Regions from separate parts of the Homo sapiens genome. Here all the other regions are linked to region 1. The links come from fine-mapping of genetic effects on gene expression. A gene starts in region 1. Each other region holds a variant in brackets. All regions are shown on one strand. Distances are between the middles of the regions.

Region 1 (5,149 bases):
ACCTCTGCCTCCCAGGTTCAAGTGATCCTCCTGCCTCGGGCTCCCAAGTAGCTGAGACTACAGGCACATGCCACCACACCTGGCTAATTGTAGTATTTTTAGTAAAGATGGGGTTTTACCAGGTTGGCCAGGCTGGTCTCAAACTCTTGACCTCAGGTGATCTGCCCGCCTTGGCCTCCCAAAGTGTTGGGATTACAGGTATGAGCCACTGTGCCTGAGTTAATTTTTATATATGGTGATAGGGTCCAGTTTCTTCTGCATATGGATAGCCAGTTATCCCAGCATCATTTATTGAAGTCCTTTCCCCATTGCTTATTTTTGTTGACTTTGTCGAAAATCAGTTGGTTGTAGGTGAACAGCTTTATTTCTGGGTTCTCTTTTCTGTTCCATTGGTCTATGTGTCTGTTTTTGTACCAATACCATACTGTTTTGGTTACTGTAGCCTTGTAGTATAGTTTGAAGTCAGTTAATGTGGTGCCTCCAGTTTTGTTCTTTTTGCTTAAGATGACCTTTCTTTTCTAAATGGCCTCTTCTGAGTGTTCTCTATTCTGTCTACCTCCTGTGAATCATGAGTGGTGAATAAAGTATGAAGGTGTAGTCGTATGGTTTTGCAGGGAAATTTAGCAGGGTTTTATACTGGCTCTTAATAGTTATATTTTGAAACTTGAATACATACAACCCTTACATATTTCCTTTTCTGATCTTTTTTCTTTGTCTGGTTTGTTAGATGTGGCATTTCCACACCTTCCTGTATGGCGAATATGTAAACGTGGGTATGTGCAAAGGAGGAGTCATCTCTTTCTTATGTCCCTTTTATGAATCACCCAGTTGTGTTCCTGGTGGATGTCTGAACTCTGGCACGGATTCCGAGATTCAGTTTCCTTATTTGTGATGTTCAGCTTTTTGTGGTCCCTGTGATTGGCCTCAAGAGGAAATATCTGGAGCAGGGCCACAAGGCTGATTAGAGGAGGAAGGGACATAGAGGGAACAAGATATGAGGGGTATTGTTGTGCAAGGAAGAAGTGAAGATACAGCCCTGTGGGGTGTAAATGAAATTATCCAGGCCTCTTCTCACTTGAGAAAGAGTGAGTGTGAGTAATGGCCTTGTCTAAGAGAACACTGAGGTGCCAGGGGAGGTAATCTTTGAGAATAACCCTGTAGCCAGTTTGAGTTCAGGAGGCTATATAAAGTTTTAGTTACTTTTACTTTCTGTCACCTCAGTGTTCCTCTCTTCCTTCTGTGGTTTTAGGGCTTTGTAGTAGTGAAGAAATTTAACAGGTTAAAATGATAAGGATGATAGATTTACTGAGCGTCTCTTCGTACTTTCACCTACATCATGTTATCCTCCTTGAAGCCCCCTACAACACATTGGAGCCTAGTATTTCTTCTTAAACAATCACACGGATTACTCTGAGAAGAAAAACGGACCATTTAAAACATTTTTAGAATCCTGTGATCTTGGAGCTGAAAGGGACTCTAAAGATTGTCTGGTCTGACCCTATATTGTGAATGAGTAGCTGAGCATGAGGTCCAGAGTGTGGAGAACACTACTCAGGAAAGTCACTCACCCAGTGAGTGCTGGTGTGGATTCGGAAAAGCCCAGGGGTGCCATGAGGTGTCCCAGAAGAGAGATGCTCATAGCTGATTTTTTTCTGAGGCATTAGGATAGCTTCTGCACCACTTTTTGCAGCTAATTGTCCCAGTTACCTCTAAGCCTCTGTGGCTAGGATATACAGACTGGCCTCATGCCTTCCACAAGATTATGTTTTAGTTTGGGAAAGAAGATTTATAAATAATGAATTAGCCAAGACTGTATATTAGGTGTGAGATGACGATACAGGAAAGTATAGTTTGTGTATTTTGGTGGTGATTGACTGTCATTGGTGTGATTAGGGAAGGTTTTATGAAGACATGGGATTTGACTGGACTCCCAGAAAGACTAAAGGACTGGGATTGGAGAAGGCATTTCAGGCAGGGAGAGTTAAATTAGTCTAAATTGAAGCTCAGCAGCTGGAGATTACAGGATGTGAAAGATCTTTGGCTGGATATGGGGGTTCAGTGGGAGACTTACTAGTTGGAGCCACTGCTTAAGTTAAATTCCAATATGACAGATTTTAGGAAGATATTTTAGGATTGTGCTAAGATATTTTAGTATTCATTGTGATAGCTTTACTGCAGTAGTCTTTGGCCTCTTGCAGTAAAATAGGGTTTGTTTCAGTTTCACCTATTTGTACTACCTCTCTTTTTCGACTAGTTTTCCAATTTCTCTCTGTATTCTCTTAATTTCTCTCTGTGTTTTTCTCACTTCTGTCAGGTGCTTTTCCCTTAACTTCTCCCCATCTATCAGACACTCAGAGCTACTACAGAATTTGGGAGGAGGATTTGGAACATAAACTGTGACCTACAAGTGAATTTCCCCAGGTGGATGATAAACTCCACTGCAGGCCACAGAGGGGCCTCCTCATTCCAGCAATCTGGCCAGGCTGACAGACTCATAGCCTATGGGAGCAGGGGAGGGTGTAGGGGCCAGTATTTCTCGGGCTAGTGACGAACTGCCTGATTCTTTGCAGCCTAGACAGAGGAGGCAGGAGCCCCAGGGGCGGGCTAATCGCCTGGGCTGGGGATGCCTGGGCAGATGCAGAGGAAGCTGGAAAGGTGGCAGTGCACCTGGGTCGCTGGAGCTGCCGCCGTTCCTAGGAGACCAAGGAGCAGCAAGCCTGCGGGGGAGGGGGAGCAAGTGGGTTGCTGCTTTTAGCAGCTGAAAGGGCTGCAGGGAGCTCTGGGTAAGACATTTTCTGTTGCTGCTGCTTTTGCGGTAGAAGCTGCTGCGAGTAAGTCAGAGGAAGGAGGATTGAGAAGGGAGGAGGCTTCACTTGCAGCCATGCTGAATCACTGTTGCTGATCAGATTTCCCACTGGTCTGCTGGGAGAATCAAGAACAGAACTAGGATCCCCGAGTGCATACACAGTTCAGCAGCTACCACCCTGGCTGGGCCTCACACAATGGAGGGTGAAAGGTATGTATGTATAAGTGTGTGCTGTGTTGTGTGTGTATGTAAGTGTATGTGTGCTTGCGGTGCAGCCACCAGCTTTTGTGTTTGCATTGGCTAGGCAGAGTTGGAAGACCTGGCCACTGATGGATCTTAAAGGGCGCCAGAACAAGAGCAGGAAAGCCGCTTTCCAAATCACCCGTTCCAGGGCTTGAATCTCCAGAGATCTGGCTTCCGCAAAGGCAGGTCTGGGTTTGCTAGGCAGCGGAGCACCCTGAAAGAAGGGACTTCCTGGCTGGTGTTCGGGAATAGTTTCAGCACAGGCTGAATCAGATTGCCTTTCTCAGGCTGTTTCAAGGAGGCGTTTCCCTTTCCTGGCTCCTTTCCCGGGGTGTTTTTTCTTTGGTGGGGGGTTTTTGATGTCATAGTGGGGCTGACCTGACATAGTGTACTTGCATTTTCACGCAGGAGTGCTTGAATCTTCAGCAAGCATGCCATGCTGATGGCTGTGTGTGTGCGCGCGTGCACGCCGTGTATGCCTGTATACACACACATTCAGGGATGAAGGAGAGAAACCCAGTCAGATGATACTTGCTCTGAACTGAGTTTCATATTTGTATTGAAAAGTTTATGAGTGATACTGGAAGGTCTGTGCTTCCTCCATCAGGGATTTCTTTTGAAATAGGAACCAGCAGAAAAGATTTTAAGTACTTTTGTTGAGCTGGATCTAACTAGCGAGGCAGTTAGATCCTGGCAGGCACACACATCTAAATTTTTAAATTGTTATCTGAAGATCTGAATCTTTCATTGTGAAGGTGCTCAGCGCAGTGCAGAGGTGACATTCCTCTGTCTATGAAGTAAAATATCTCTTGAGTGCCAACCTCTTCATTCTTTGGTCTGCAGTTGGTAGAGTACGAGGCTTGCCATTTTATCTGAGGAGAGAAGACTGCAGGGAGGGGTCCGGCCATGGCAGTGCACCACTGAGGGGAAGCCTGCTGCTCCAGATTGCCAGTTTGATGCAGACAGTAACCATCTGGTTAACAATAATAGGCTCAACTAAGTCAACACTAGAGAGTATCTCAATGAACACTTTCCTTTTCATGAGTTGTTGTGACTTCTGTGTCTCACGGGGCACAGTGATGCCATTAAACATCTCTAGACCCTATTAGAACTAGCATGATGATTGGGTGTCATTCTTTTGTCTGTAGAGGCCCTGGGAACTGTGTTTCTTGATGACTCCCACAGGAAGAGCCTGGGACTGACTGTGCTGCTGGTGCATTCTCTTTCTGGGTGCTCTTTGCAACAGGAGTTTAGTGTTGAACTCTGTGAGGCCTGCTGAGCAGCAGAATATGAAGGCCTATTTCCTAAGTGTGGGGCAGAGGTGAGCAGTGTCTTTGGTCCCCAAAACAGTGTCCCATTGATCTGGTAGGTGGCAGAGAATGGGGTTGATGCGATGAAGGTTTAGAGATTCTGGGCCATGCCTATTTGCTTGACCTGTGGTGTAACTGGGGTTGAGAGGTCAGTGTGAGACTACCAGCAGCGGATCAAACAGTTTTGGGCACTGTGTTCCCAGTTCTGTGTTCAGAAATATAGTGAGTCCTTGCCCCTGTCCTGGGGCCTCTCAGCTGGGATGGCTGATGTCTATGGCTTTAGAACACCAGGTTGCACATGTTCTTGTACTTTTCCTCTGCTGAAGGCAGATGGTAGACAAGAAATCCAAACCGAGCAGCTTCCAATGTTCACCAGGTCACCCAGGTCATACCTTTTGTTCCTGCTCCAAGTCCAGCTTACCATGCCACGCGTTCAAGTCTTCTGAACTCTAACTCCTGTTCCCATTTCCACTGCTCACTCATATACCTACTGAGAATTCTGTTGATCTCTTTCATGATCACCCATCCTATACATTACTCCATCTAGCCTCATATCCTTAGCTCCCAGAGTTTCTTTTGCTGGATGTCTTTCCCTTCCAATTTTGCAAAAGTTATCTATCTATCAAGGTTATTCTAAAATTCTACTTTATCTTGGAAACTCAGCTTTTCTAGTCCTGGCTGATGTTCTTCGGAATTCTAATACCTCTGGTTTGTATCTCATAGTTGGACACTGAATAATAGGCCCACCAGATCTTTCAGTGCTTTTATTTCATATATCTTAGCAGTCCCC
Region 2 (5,149 bases), 63 kb after region 1:
ACTTAAAATGTATACACTTAAAAATTGTTTGCAGTGTTGCTCAATAATTCATATACTTACATATGAGTTGCTCTTTCTGTATAGCCAGAGTTTGGAGTATAGGTATTTTTCACATTAACGAAGTTCTATTTCATATTTGCTTCTTGGAACTTATATGTAACTTCAGAATTATGTGCTGCTTTTCATAAAGCAGATTACTCATGATCTTGATCCCTTTAGTACCTTTAAGGTTGGCAGTGTAATTTTGAGGTTTATTAAAGAATAGTGGGGCTTGGTCTACATTTTCTCTTTGGCTAACCTCATAGTTTTATTTCTCCATAATTGATCATGTCTTGCTGGAAGTTAAATAGCTGGAAGCTTCTGACAATTAGATGTTTTTCATTTTAATGCTAGTCCTTTAGGCTTTGAAAATTCTGTGTCTGCTCCAGGAGATTTAGTGATTTCTACGCCCTTTAATTACATTGTGTGTGATAAGCAATCTCTTGCATGCATAATAACCTTTCCTTTCAATACTGTTTTATAGTGGAATTTTAAAATGTATTTGAAGTAATATTAGGGATCTTAAGTTAAAATTCAACTGCATATAATGTTAACAGTTGCAGAAAACCCAACTGGGTTGGTAATCAAGTAACTGGTGTTCCACTAAATCCACACTTAACAGCATAACGGCAATTATGACTTACTCTGCATGCAGCCCACAGATTTCTTTGAACATATATTATAAAATGAAGCCAGATTTCAGACATTAACATGTAAAAAACACATACGCCTTAAAATAGAGGAAATGTAATATTTTACTATTAATGATGAGTGTAAGTAACAGGCAGCTTTCATCTTGTAAGTTTGCAAGTATAACTTCTACAGTCAGAGGGGCTCAGTTTGAATTTTGACTTCCCTACTTAAACAAGCTGAGAACCCTGGGCAAGTTATTTATCTCCCACAAGAATGTATGTACCGTATACAAGTAGATAGACAGGAATTTTGTCTGTCTGCTTGTCGCTGCTGGAGTGGTATCAGGTTCATGGTAGACACTAAAAAAATAGCTGTTGAAAGGACGAATAAAAGAACCTCCCTATGGCTCAGTTTTCTCATCTGTAAAAGGTGAGTAATGGTAGTATAGTATCTACCTTGTAAGGTTGCTATGAGGATTAAATGGGATGATATATGAAAAAAGCTTAGAATATAAGAAGTGTTCATTACTGTAAGATACTGTTGTTATTGCTGCTATTATTATGGTTATTACTACTAGTACTGCTCCTAGTAGTAGTCATAACTGTTGACTGGAGCCTTTCCTAAGGGGGAGTCTTCCCAGTGCCCATGTTGGTCTGGGTTGTTGGCATGACCTGGGGCCCCAGTGCCTAGCAGGGTCAGAGAGTGGTTGTGACCTCATGCTCCCCAGTGTCCCCAGCCCTGCCTGGGCCCCTCCCAGAGCTCAGAGACTGTTCTTCCAGCATCACTTGCTTTTGCCCATTCCTTATCTCCTCTACTGCCCTCAGATGCCTTGAGGGCTGTGAGGGTACCTTAGTCATCTTTGTATCACATGCAGTACCTGACTCAGTGCCCCAGGAGGTGCCACGGAAGGACTCAGCAGATGTCCCCCAAGGGATTGAGGTACACTGGGGCTGGAGTTTGCACTGAGCCAGCTGAGGTTATGGGAATAATTTTAACAGTTTTCTAGAGAGTAAGGACAGATAGGGGAATTAGAGGGTAGGGGAGGGCATGAATCCTTGCCATTTTTGCTCTTGTTTTTCCTTCATGTGGTTTTTATTTTAGAATTCTTGTTATTGAGAGAGGTCAAATGGATGTGATGGGAGTCACACAAAATCACTAGTTCATTGTGTAGGACCTTCCCCTTCCTCATGTCATGCCAGACCCCTATTAACTTCAATAGGGATGGCATCATGTTCAAGAGGTTGAAGAAGAGGCCCGGAGGCAGCGAACAAGACATAGGGTTTATTGAGGGCACTTACGTACAGGGCTGTCCAGTGGTGGCAGGCTGGACAGGAAATTGCAACTGCTTGTAAAATGCATGCAGTTTATAT[A/T]GCATTTTCACTTAACACCCTCCTGCTGGTGACCTTCACCTGGCAACCTTCATTTAACACAAAACAAAGGGCCTCAATCCCCTATATGGCCTGCATTTCCCAGGATGGGCTGGGGTTCAGATGTTCCTCATAGATAAGGAATGAATCTCCAGGTTCTTGATTCCTTAGCGTGGAACACTGAACACACATTCTTCTTAGACCGTAGAGTCATTCTCAGGGTATGCTTAAGTTATTGCTGTCAGGTGCATCTATCATACACTCCACTACCCTGAGGATAGAGACAAGAAGATTAAAGCCAGGCATCTGATTCTTCCACATGGTGGGTGTTGAGGGGTTAGGGCTAAGCCTGTGAGCTGACGGCATGTTTATTGTATTTCCCCTTGAGACACAAAGTTCAGCTCTGGCCATGAACATCCTCAGTGACCCAGTGACCCAGGGGCAGAATAAACAACCTTCTGGGACAAACCCACTCTAAGGAAAGAGATATGACTCCTGAGTTCGAGTGCAGTTTTGCTGTTGAATTGCTGTGGGACCTAGCAAGTTACTGGACTTCTTTGAATTTTGGCTTTCCTAGCTGGTAAATATATGTCTCCATCTCAAGATCTCTTGCCTTCTTATGAAACACTATTGAGGCTTTTCAGAGACACCTCTGAGTGAGTCTTAACAGGGAAATGGCCTGCATTTTAGATACCGGTCAGGAAGAAATTTATTAAGTCTTTTTAAAAAATTAGTGTTAAGTATGTTCTGGAATAAGAACTATAGGTTACTTCTCTTTGCATTATCACATTTTAAAATGCGCTGTTGTCTCCTTAAACTGCATTTTAGAGACCAAATTTTGATATCTTATTTCTTGGGAGGGACTGGGCCCTTGTCTCCCAGGATCATTGGTGTTCCATGCCCTTCTGTCTGAATTCCTTGCCTTTCCAGCAAGGTGGTTGTGGGAGGCAGGCTGTGGGAGGCAGGCTGGAGAGCCTTGGCCGGTGGGCTGGGCTTGCATGATTGCTGCCGAGGCATTGCCAGGTGACTGAGCAGGTGTACCCTGCTGCCTAGGCCGAGCTGTTGGCAGCCCTGCCTTACTCTGAGGTTATCAGAGTTGCCAGCTTCTCAGCTTGCCAACAACAGTGATCTGTTAACGCCCTACCTTGGCGTTACTCTTTTTACTGTTCTCCTTTGGATGGTGGAATTCAATAACTACCCATGCACAGAATATGACAGCACCGTGCCCCCAAATCTACCATGACCAACCAGTGTTCTCCAGGTATGTTTCACTCATCATTTTTTTTTTAAACAGGAAGTTTGTATTGAAGTAAGTTCATGGAGAAGTAAACAAATCAAGTATACAACTAAACTTTTTACGAAGTAAAACACCCACATAACTAGCACCCAGGTCAAGAAACAAACCCCAGAACCCCCTTCCAGTTACTACTCCCTACCCTGGGAAGGGCACCTACCTTCTTGGCTTCTCACACCTTAGGTGAGTTTTACCCATTTTGGAAGCTTATATAAATTGAACAGTGGTGCGTGTGTGCTTTTGTGTCTGATTTTTTCCTGTCCAGCATGACATTCAGAGAACATCATTTCTAATCCTCACAACAAGTTGCAAGGCAGAGATTATTGTCTTCATTTTGCAGACGAAGAAACTAAGGTTCAGAGAGGTGACACAGCTCATTAACCGTAGATAGCTCCATGATGTGAAGCTGTGTGTGTCTGCCTCCCAAGCCCCACTCTTTATGAATGCACCCCCACCCTGATGAGGGGTACAGAGATGAGTGACAGGTAGTCATTTCTATTCAGGGGCTCATAGACTGGTGGGCAGACGGACTGAAAACATGTGTCCATAGTACGTGGCCAAGAGAAATAATTGCTTATAATTATAGTTCAAGGAAAGTACCTGGAATATTTTATTCCAGGTTGTTGTATAGGAAAGACATCATGGAAAAGAGAGTCTTTGAGTTAAACTTTGGTGAATGAGGGTAGAATTTTGGAAAGCCATTTAGGTTGGAGGAATAGTAGGACTATTCCTACTAAAGACTTGGAAGTTTGGAATAGCTCGTACCTGGGGAGAAAAGTAAACTCTGTGATAAGAATCAAGGACCGTGGAGAATGGTGGGAAATGAGGCTGGGAGTGGGGTAGGAGTCTGTGAAGAGATTTAAGGAGTGAGAGCTTTCTTCTTCAGGTCAGTATTTGCTTAACTGTATCCCATAAAGACACAGTATTACAAGATGTTTATAGGTGTTTGGGGCTTTTTTGTTGTTGTTTTTTTTTTTTTTTGAGGTGGAGTCTCGCTCTTTGCCCAGGCTGGAGTGCAGTGGCACGATCTCGGCTCACTGCAACCTCCGCTTCCCAGGTTCAAGCGTTTCTCCTGCCTCAGCCTCCTCAGTAGCTGGGATTACAGGTGCCCGCCACCACTTACGGCTATTTTTTTTTTTGTATTTTTAGTAGAGACGGGGTTTCATCATATTGGTCAGGCTAGTCTTGAACTCCTGACCTCATGATCCGCCTGCCTCAGCCTCGCAAAGTGCTGGGATTACAGGCGTGAGCCACAGCACTTGGCCAGGTTTTTTTGTTTGTTTGTTTGTTTTAAGCATTCTCAGGTCAGATACATTTAGGAGACACTGGCTGAACAAAGTAACCAGGTTTCTTTACTACAGGAGTTGTCAGAGCTTTTATATGGTAATGAGCTTTGTGAACCTTTAAGGGATATTTGAGGATACAGTATGATGTGTTTCTTAGGCTCATTTGGCCCCTGAGCCCCTTTACTACAGAATATCTCCTGCATCTAGTATCCTTAGGAACACATTATAGAGTAGAGTCTTTAAGCCACCTTTCATTGGTTGTCCCAGATATTCTACTATTTTTTGCATCTTTGATATGTCTTTTGGTAATTCATTTCCAAAATGAATTATAATTTTTGATTGTGACTTCATGTTCAGAGGATGTCATATCCTGGGAATCTAGGTTGCCCTGGGCTGTGGACCCTGTAGGGCAGGTTTACTGGTTTAGGAAACAGTTTTTGTATTAGATATTGTCTTAGATATTTCCCATACCACCTGGGTGATGTCAGTTCAAACTCTCAATTTTTATGTGGCATGAGTCTAGGGTTTGG
Region 3 (5,149 bases), 53 kb after region 1:
AGCACATGGGTGGAAAGAATTATACCACAATCCTACCCAGAGAGAACTGCTGGCAGCACCTTGATGTATATCCTTCCAAATCTTTTTCATTGTATATGTATGCTTTCCAGCTTAAAAAACATTTTAGCCAGGTACAGTAGCAGGTGCCTATAGTCCCAGCTACTTGGGAGGTTGAGGTTGATAGCTCAAGCATTCATGTGTAGCTTGAGCCACGGAATTTGAATCCAGCCTGGGTAACATAACAAGACACCCCATCTCTTAAAAAAACATTCTTAGCAGTATATTCTGAATTTCTTTCCATGTTAGCAGATACATTTCTAGACCATTGTTTGAAACATTTAGGTAATATATTCAATAAAAGCAATTTATACTCATGACCAAAAAATGCAAGCAGTACATAGAGGTATAAAATGCAAAGCCAGTCTTCTCCCAGCCTGTCTCTCTGAAGTGGGGAGATCCTTGGTATCCTTACAGAATTTATATATTATGCTTTTTAACTTACACAACAGAAAGCACTCTGTACTCGTTGTACTTTTGTTTGACAATACAAATCTTGCAATTATTTCCACACCCTTGTGTATGGCTATATCTTATTCTTTTAGTCTGCTGCATCTCATGGATGGAGTATAATTTATTTAACCAGTCTTCTGTTGATGGACATTAATGTTTCCAGTTTTTTTATTTAAAATGCTTCCATGAGAATTCTTGTACATAATATTTTGGAGTACACTTGCTAGTATACCTGTAGGGTACAATCTTAGTAGCATAGTTGTTGGATCAAAGAGAATGTACATTAAAAAGTTGTTTGATAGATTTTGCCAACTTGCTGTCTAAACAAATGTGACTTTATTTTAAAGCCAGTCTTGCCTTCTGATAGGTCCTCGGCTTTTCCAGCGAGAGCACAACTTTGTGGGGGCTGAAGCATCATCTCTATGTCCAGCTGCCTATTTGGTTTCCTGTTTGGAAGGGCCCTGTCTCTTCCTGCTGTGGCAGTCCCTCCTGCTTCCTCTGGATTCAGTTTCCCCCTCAGGGAAGTTCCCCAGATCTTTGCTATGATATATGTTATTCTGGGGTAGGGAGGGTAGGTCCCGCATTTAGAAGCTGACTGCTCAGACTCTTGCCTTAGCTAGTGGCATCACAGTCTTCCTGGGCAACTAGTAGCTGGGAAATGGACCCCAGTGTCTTTCACAGCCTGTTTCTTATACCTCATTATTGTTGTTTCCAGGGACTGCTTAATCTTTAACCTCAGAGGCCAGGGCCTAGGGTTATGGGGACTTTGTTGTTTGGTAATTGGACAGCCATACACTGGGCCATCAGCAGAGCTGTTTGGGAGGGATGTTAATGGGACTTCATTAATGAAATAGCAATTAAAATTCTTTGGACATGTTGTTTACATCAGTCTGCCAAAGCTAAGCAAAAACCTCCAGCCATGGGATGGAAAAGCCATTGGATTTCACGTGCTTATGGAGAGAAATGGCCTTTTTTTGATTGATTGAGTCATTTGAGATCATGGAATGAAGTAATTAAGGCAGCAGAAAAATTTGGAAAATCATTAAAAAACATAAATCTCTGACTCAGTGAGAGTCCTCTTCTAAAATTGCTGCTCCTAACTTGTCACCATGAAATAATGATGATCATAATGATGGGCATTTCTATCATTTTTGAATACTTGCTAGGTGCCAGGAATGGTGCTACATGATTCATAGGCATGGCCTCATTTTGTTCATTTAAGTATAAGAGTTATTATTTTCTCAGCTTATAGGTGAAGAAACTGTAACCCCAGAGAAGTTTAGTAACTTGTCCAAGATCATATATTAACAGCTTATAAGTGGCAGTGCCAGAGTGAGGCCAGCTGACTGCAGAGGTCTGTGTCCTAAGCCCCGCTACTTATTTCCCACCCACCCAGACCAGCCTAGCCTATTTTCTATGATGGTTGCCTCACTCCTGCCTCTCTTGGATTTTCTGCATCTAATTTGAAGTTGGCAAATGAGGCAGTCGTGCAGACACAGATAGGTTTCGTTGCTTGCTCTTTGTTAGGATTTTAGGAAACTTCACTTGTTCCATTTTCTGGGTTATGGGGAACCTCACTGTTGAATCAATAGCACTATTATGGCCCTTGGCTGTGTGTATGTGTGTGTGTGTGTGTGCGCGTGCATGTGTGTGTGTGAGAGAGAGAGAGAGAGA[GAA/A]AGAGAGCTAGAGAGAGAGAGAGAGAGAAAGAGAGGGAGAGGACAACACATAATATTTCTGGAGTAAGGCAACATGGAAAGAGAGCTTATTTCCTGCCTTCCCAGGGAGTGTGGAGGTAGTAATATTTAGAGTCTGAGGGCTGGTGGTCATGACCCTTCTGAGAAGAGGTCAAGGTGGGTCTCTGTTACTTCCCTGTGGGAACTGAGCCTTTTCCCTAGAGCAGAGAAACTGTGAGCCTGGAAAGCTAAATATTGATTCAAGGAAGCTTGCCTCTGGCCTCTAAAAATAGAGTAATAAGGGGCAGAAGAGAGAGTTTTAAGGCAGTTCTGTGGTTTTGTTTTTTCACCCTGCCAAAATGTTTCCATTTTGTTTGTGTGTCCACCTGTGTCAGCCAGTGTCTCCTGAGGGTGTGACCTGTGGTTCAGTTCAGAGGCACTCACACCTGTTCCCTGGGGCTGCTGGCCCTGGGAATTATGGGGCTTATGGGGTTTATTTCATCTCTGATTGGTAAAACACAATGAGTATGTTCCCGTCCATGTGGATGGGAAATTATGGAGAAGAGGAAGAGGCACCATATAACTTTCAGTCTTTTCCCACCAAGCAACACAAACATATCTTCCCAATGTTAAAAGGATGATAAAATTTGGGTGATACATTCCCAGGCAAGGGCTTTCTCTGGGGGTACAGTTGGGTCTCAGAGAAAGTTGAGGCCATTTCCTAATACTAGCTAACACCATTCTAAGCATTTTACATATATTATGTCTCTCAATCCCCGCAAAGTCAAGGAAGTCACAGATGGGTCATCATTCCATTTGTTCTGAGCTTGTAGGTTAGATGAACCAGATCAAAGGTTTAGGTTTATTTCATTCCGTGAAGAGAGAAGAATAGTCCTGGGGCTAGCTTGAGAGGTTGCCTGAACCCTAGGCAGTCTTGAAGAACAGTCAGGAAAGTGCAGTAATAATTTTAGAGCTCGGTATATACAGATATTATGCTGGAGACTGAGGATTCAGCTTCAAATAACACAGACTTGATCCCTGACCTCATGGGGCTCCCAGTCCGAATAGAATAGAAAGATTCATGTAATAAAGCAGGGTGATTAGGGATATGATTGTTATATCTTGTTTGGGGGGCTTTGGGAACCCCAAAGACTATCACTTCCTCTAGCCTAGTGGATGGGGGGATTAGGGAAATATCTTAATTCTGGGGTTAGGTCTGAGATTTGAACCTAGAACTGACTCCAAAATGCCAAGAAGTTAGGAATTTAGGGACTAAGATTATTCTCTTTTTTCCCCAAAGAAAGGTTTTTAGATGCATATCCTCTGTCTATGCCTCTCTCTCTCTCTCTCTCTCTCTCTCTCTCTATGTCCAGCACCCCTGAGAGGGATTCTTAAGGTTTTCTGATGTCTGTGTTGAATTTTACCCCAGTGGACTGCTCAGGATAGGTGTTTATCTTGGTACCTAAGATACTCATCAGAATATTTGTTATTATAATTGGGCAGTCTTGGTTCAAAACCTGGCTCTACCAGGTTTACTATTCTGTAAACCTAAGCACCTGTCTTAGAGTTTCTGGGCTTCTGTTTCTCCATCTGTAAAATGGGGATGTTGATACTCACTTTAGTAGGGCTTTTGCGGGGATTGAGAGACATAATATATGTAAAATGCTTAGAATGGTGTTAGCTAGTATTAGGAAATGGCCTCAACTGTCTCCGAGACCCAACTGTACCCCCAGAGAAAGCCCTTGCCTGGGAATATATCACCCAAATTTTATTATCCTTTTAACATTGGGAAGATATGTTTGTGTTGCTTGATGGGGAAAAGACTGAAAGTTATATGGTGCCTCTTCCTCTTCTCCATAATTTCCCATCCATATGGACAGGAACATACTCATTGTGTTTTACCAATCAGGACATGGAACTTAAACAATATTTGTTACTTATAGTAAAACCTGGCTAATTAGGACTCTTAACCAGAACTCTTAATTAACTGACTTATTTTTCTCTGTGTCCACCCCTCTTAAAGAAAAAGAAGCGAAACGATAAGAAAAGTTAGTTATTATTGGAGAGTTACCCTTCAAGGGCTAACTCTCCAATAATAACTCTCTTTTAACCCATGGTTAAAAGGTACTATGCCCCCGGCACATGCATCCCTCCCCCAGGATCTAGCCTTGTCTGCCTCTCCATTGCATCTCCAAGAGCCTGCAGAGCTCCTCATACTTAGGGAGTGCTCAGCAAACCTTTGTTGGATGAATGAAGACATCACCTAGGTTCTAGCTAGACTTCACTATTACTGTTCTTTACATATGCTCTGAATTTTCCTGTTCCCTGCCTTTGTTTGTACTGAAAGTACCTCTCTCAGTCATGTGAGAGGTGGACTTTGGGATGGAGTTATTGATGCCTTGTCTTATCTTGCTTGTGAGGCAGTAGGGTCCTTGTAGACATCAGTTCTGGTTTCTTCATTTTTGAAGAAATGCTGCATTTGATACATCATACGTTAAGAGTTATCTAGCACCTGCAATGGACTCAGTAAATGTGAGTCACATCTATTTCTTTATTTAATGCCCATATCACCTTATGTACTATTATTATTTCCATTTAATATATGGGAAACCTGCAGCCTCAAGGAACTGAATAACCTATACCACTGGACAGTTTGTTGAATTCGATAGAATTAAATTTGTTCTCTAAGATCTTGCAGGTCCACAGCCTTGCCCATAGGATCTGCAGTCCCAAAGGATGTCTTAACATTTTTTTTTTTAAATAGAGAGGGGCCTCACTTTATTGACCAGGCTAGTCTTGAACCCCTGACCTCAAATGATCTTCCTGCGCAGCCTTCTAAACTGTTAGGATTATAGGTATGAGCCACTGTGCCTGGTCCCAAGGGATATCTTGATATAGAAAATCTTCTCTGTTAAAGAGTGGTGCTGCCGGCCGCAGTGGCTCACACCTGTAATCCCAGCATTTTG
Region 4 (5,149 bases), 45 kb after region 1:
AAAAAGAAGTCTTTTTCAAGTGTCCTGAATCAAGAAAACAAATGCATCTGCAGCCCATATCTTCCTGGGCAAGCCCTTGTGGCTGGGAACAGCTAGAGTGTAGCTGGCTCAGTCACTCTCTCAGAGCCAGGGCAGCAGCTGAGAGCAAAGGCCTGGGGCAAGGGGATTATTTTGGGGTGAAGTGGATGCCAGGGTCCCCAAGATAAGCAGCCTTAAATCAAGCTATTCTGTAGTGTGATTTTTTTTCTAAATTTCTTTTTGGAAAATCATTCTCAGACTACCTGCTGCTTCCATAGGTGAAGGGCAGGGTAGCAGAGCTGGAGTGGGACAGGACTTTGGCCTTTTGTCCTGTATGTTTGATCTAGAGGCAGGCTTCAGCAGCTGAGGGAAAGTCCTAGGGAAAATTGATAGAGGTTGGCTGTCTGAGCACCCAGCGGGCCTGCTCAAGCCAGTCTTCCCTGACCCTTAGGAAAAACACATGCATATACACCTGAGCAAGAACTATTTCTGTCTTTCAGGATATAGTATAAATAGTCATGTGTCCTGTGACCTTTTAAATGGAAACTTAGCTCTCCTTTCTCTAAGAATGTACCTAAAGATGTTCTTTGCTTTGTATCTGTTTGATGGGAGAATAAAGTGTCGTTGCCTGAGTCCTGAGGGATTTGGAATGAATCTTGTTCCAGTAGACTCTAAGCTCCAGGAGAACAGGATCTGGTTTCTCTTGCTTACCCCTGAATCCCAGAGCCTAAACTAGTGCCTGGCACATAGATGTTCAGTAATTAATCATTCATTAAGTACCTTTCTGAATGAGGACAGTACACTGAAGGTTGTGGGACAGTGGCTCTCAAACGTGGCTGTACATTAGAAGCACCTGGGGAGCTTTAAAAAACATCTTAATGTCCAGGCCACACTCCATACCTATTGAGTTAGATTCTTTTAGGGCAAGACCTAGACATCAGTAGTTTTAAAACTCTTAAGGTAATACCAGTGTGCAGCCCAGTATGAGAACCATTGTGTGTGTGTGTGTGTGTGTGTGTGTGTGTGTGTAGAGTTTTGTTACTCAAAGTGTGGTTTGTGGACCAGCAACTGCAAGCATCACTTGAGTTCTTATTAGAAATGCAGGCTCTCAGATCCCATCCTAGACCTAATGAATTAGAATCTGCATTTTAATAAGATCCCCAGGGATTAAAGACTGGGAAGCATGGCTGTAGGGATACAGAGAATCTGCTGGTGTTTAGGGTCCGTGAAGGGCAGAGTAGTGGGAAATAAGGCTGGAAAGCAGGCTAGGAAGTTTGGACTTACTGGCGGGCAGTGGAGAGCCATGAAAAGATCTTGAGCATGGGAGTGATATGATAGGAAAAGGCAGATGAGTCTCTGCCAGTGGGATCCAATATCTGAGAATGTCACCTTCTCTTGCAGGTGCTGCTCCCGGCAGCCAGCTTGCTGCAGCTCATGGATGTTCGGCAGAACTGCTGTGACTTCCTGCAGTCTCAGTTGCATCCCACCAATTGCCTGGGCATCCGTGCATTTGCAGATGTACACACCTGCACTGACCTTCTGCAGCAGGCCAATGCCTACGCAGGTAAGGGGGAGCCGGACTGCTGCACCTCCTCCGAGTTTGTGGATCTAATCACCTGGTCTTCTGCAGACTCCTCAAAGATTATGAGAAGTGGTCTCTGCTGTGAAGCAGCTATGATTTAGTTAGGGATACAGGTGGAAAGATAATTAATGATAGGACAGTTTAGCTCATTGCCAAGTGGAAAATGATTAATTGCCAAGGGGATGGTACAGACAGTAATTTTCACTAGAGTAGAGGAAGGAGATCCAAGAAGATTTGGGGAGTGGGGAGAGCAAACTGAGCTAGGTCTTGAGCTACGTCTTGTTATTGTTAAGAAAAGCTTTGTTTTTATCTGAGCGTTCCATAAACATTCTTTTAAAAGTCACGTACTGGCTGGGCGCAGTGGCTCACGCCTGTAATCCCAGCACTTTGGGAGGCTGAGGCAGGCGGGTCATGAGGTCAGGAGATCGAGACTATCCTGGCTAACACGGTGAAACCCCCGTCTCTATTAAAAATACAAAAAAAAAAAAATTAGCGGGGCTTGGTGGCGGGCGCCTGTAGTCCCAGCTACTTGGGAGGCTGAGGCAGGAGAATGGTGTGAATCCGGGAGGCGGAGCTTGCAGTGAGCCGAGATTTCGCCACTGCACTCCAGCCTGGGTGACAGAGCGAGACTCCATCTAAAAAAAAAAAAAAAGTCACGTACTATTGCAGG[G/A]CTTATAACGATGAGGAGTGCCCTGCTCCACCTTTCCACACTGAGTCTTGTGCTCCAGAGCCACTCATTTTCAATCCTTAAGGAATTAAAATGCAGGTTCTGATCCAGCTAAAAGCTACTTCATCTGCTACTCACTTCCATTTATCAAAATAATATGTGCAACTGCTATTTTTTGATTAGTTTTAGATATTATTTGTTGACTTCTCCAGAAGAATAAGATTGAGCTTTTGCAGACTTTCCCTTTATACACATGCAGCCACCCCCCTCTTTATTGTCCAAATACCATTTCCACAACTGAACTAAGCCATCTATTATAATTATAGTGTTTTTTTAAATCAGAAAACTTTAATAAGAAGGGCAGTTAATAATTGTCTTTTTCTCTTGCATAGTGTATGGTTCTACCACTAATTCTTGTTAGAACAGTCCTCAATACATCAGATAATCTGTTGGTTCACTTATTTTTCTTGGAGACATTCTCTGCACTAGAGCTTGTCATTCTATTATTTTAATGGGGTTTTGGGAGGGAGTAGAAATGAACATTTATATTCAGTCCATTATGTTTATTTAGCTAGCTGGAAAGAAATCTTCATTGCCACTTGTTCCAGCCTGAAGAAAGATGGTGAATGACTAGGAAATAGGTCTGATCATTTAACTTGATAAATTCAGTCATGGCCACCTTCTTCCCTTGCAATAAAACACCTCCTTCTTACCCCTGCTCAAGCACTGTCATGGCTGCTATTCTGTTCCGTGTCTCCTGTTTGGCCAGTGTCTGGAAATTAGCTGAGGACCTACTGGCTGCCCACCTGCCAGCTAGCTACCTGTGCTGTGTTAGCCTCTTGGTCAACAAAGCAACAAGCATTTGCTCCATTTCTTGGCATGCTTTTTCTCTCTGATTAAGTCCCTGACCCCAGGAGCCTGCAGAGACTCTCATGTCTCCCTGCAGCCTGTTTCTGAAGGCACAAACAAGTCTTCTTTCTGAAGACTTGTAAAGATAGTCTTGATATGATGATTTTTGTGAAGGACATTACCCAGTAGCCTCAATTCTGAGTCCTGCTGATTCTTTCTGGCTCTGAACCTTGACCCTTCTGCTTCTCTGCCGTTCCTGTGCTCTCTTTTCCCTGCATATTCTCCACTGCCTTTCCACCTTCACTTAGGGAGCCCTTTCTCTTCCTGGGGAGGGCTCCCAGTGAAGCCTTTGAAGAGGTCACTTTCTAGATGGATGGGTGTGCTAAGGCAAGCATTTTCTCTGCAGATTTTTTTTTTTTTTTTTGAGATGGAGTCTCGCTCTGTCGCCTGGGCTGGAGTGCAGTGGTGCAATCTCGGCTCACTGCAAGCTCCGCCTCCTGGGTTCACGCCATTCTCCTGCCTCAGCCTCCCGAGTAGCTGGGACTACAGGCGCCTGCCACCACGCCAGGCTAATTTTTTGTATTTTTAGTAGAGATGGGGTTTCACCGTGTTAGCCAAGATGGTCTCGATCTACTGACCTTGTGATCCGCCTGCCTCAGCCTCCCAAAGTGCTGGGATTACAGGCGTAAGCCACTGTGCCTGGCCTGCAGATTCTTTTCACAAACGTTTGCTAGTGCAGTGGCAAAGGGAGAGTGCTTAGATGTCAGAAATTCTGTCTCCTTCTTCTGTGTCTCCTCTTACCAGCCCTCTCCTTCCACATAGTGTGTGATGCATGTGTGTGTACACCTAGCACATATCCCACCCTAATTGGCTGATACAGTTGTCTGAGGTTTGGGGAGTATACTGAATCCCCACCTTTTTTAAAATTTAAAATTACATTCTAGATTCAAGAGGTACATATGCAGGTTTGTTATGTTTGTATATTGTGTGATGCTGAGTTTTGGCTTCTGTTGATCCCATTACTCAGATGGTGAACATAGTACCCAATAGGAAATTTATCAGCCCTTGCCCCCACTCCCTTTGGAGTCCCCAGTGTCTGTTTTTCCCATCTTTATGTCCATAGGCACCCAGGGTTTAGCCCACTTACAAGTGAAAACACGTGATATTTGGTGTTCTGTTTCTGTGTTAATTAACTTAGGATAATGGCTTCCAGCTGTGTCCATGTTACTGCAAAGGACATGATTTTGTTCTTTTTTATGGCTGCGTAGTATTCCATGGTGTACCACATTTTCTTTATCCAATCCATTGTGGATGGGCACCTAGATTGATTGCATGTCTTTGCTATTGTGAATAGTGCTTAATGAACATATGTGTGCATGTGTCTTTTGGTAGAACAATTTATTCTCCTTTGGGTATATACCCAGTAATGGGGTTGCTGGGTCAAATGGTGGTTCTATTTTTAGTTCTTTGAGAAATCTCCAGACTGTTTTCCACAGTAGCTGAATTAATTTACATTCCCACCAGCAGTATATAAGCATTCCCTTTTCTCTGCAACCTTGCCAGCATCTGTTGTTTTTTGACTTTTTAATAATAGCCATCCTGACTGGTATGAGATGGTATCACTTGGTAGTTTTGATGTGCATTTCTCTAATGTGAATCCCCACCTTTATTAGGGCTCCCAGGCTCTTCTGGCCTGGCTTTTCCCAACTTTCAACGTCTGTGTTTTCTCCTTTGCCCCTTTCACTATCTGATGATGAGACTCATCTGTGGGAGAGTGCAGCAGATGCAGCTGGGAACACATCCATCTTTCTGGTGCTCCTTGGTCCTGTTGCTGTTATAGTGATTGAGTTCTGTCTGCATTATGGGTCTGTGTATGCAGACATCCTGATGAATTATTCTTAGCTAGTGTTTATTGAGCTCTCCCTTTGGGTCATACCCTATGCTAAGCATTTTATTGGCAACATCCCGTTTAATGCATATGATAGCTGAGGAAACCAGGGCACAGAGAGGTGAAGTAATTTGTTGAGGTCACA

The links. PIP is the estimated chance that this variant, and not a neighbour inherited with it, causes the effect. A credible set is the group of variants that fine-mapping cannot tell apart.
Region 2: its variant is the best candidate, but not a certain one, in a credible set for the expression of KLHL3 in testis (GTEx, PIP 0.59).
Region 3: its variant is the best candidate, but not a certain one, in a credible set for the expression of KLHL3 in whole blood (INTERVAL, PIP 0.64).
Region 4: its variant is the best candidate, but not a certain one, in a credible set for the expression of KLHL3 in unexposed skin (GTEx, PIP 0.55).

Annotation. Positions count from the first base shown.
Region 1 is chr5:137,733,500-137,738,648 of GRCh38, reverse strand. It overlaps KLHL3 (kelch like family member 3), which reads left to right and starts at 2,560. Exons shown (of 15, transcript NM_017415.3): 1 at 2,560-3,016. The coding sequence starts at 3,003. RefSeq lists enhancers at 2,293-2,961, 4,293-4,362.
Region 2 is chr5:137,670,137-137,675,285 of GRCh38, reverse strand. The region is part of intron 6 of KLHL3 (kelch like family member 3); the gene reads left to right. Among named protein-coding and RNA genes, the nearest start is that of MIR874, 25 kb to the right of the region's middle. The variant A/T (reference allele first, on the strand shown) is at 2,043.
Region 3 is chr5:137,680,803-137,685,951 of GRCh38, reverse strand. All of the region lies in intron 5 of KLHL3 (kelch like family member 3), which reads left to right. Among named protein-coding and RNA genes, the nearest start is that of MIR874, 36 kb to the right of the region's middle. RefSeq lists silencers at 998-1,292, 1,267-1,512. The variant GAA/A (reference allele first, on the strand shown) is at 2,185.
Region 4 is chr5:137,688,718-137,693,866 of GRCh38, reverse strand. It overlaps KLHL3 (kelch like family member 3), which reads left to right. Exons shown (of 15, transcript NM_017415.3): 5 at 1,420-1,582. Among named protein-coding and RNA genes, the nearest start is that of MIR874, 44 kb to the right of the region's middle. The variant G/A (reference allele first, on the strand shown) is at 2,271.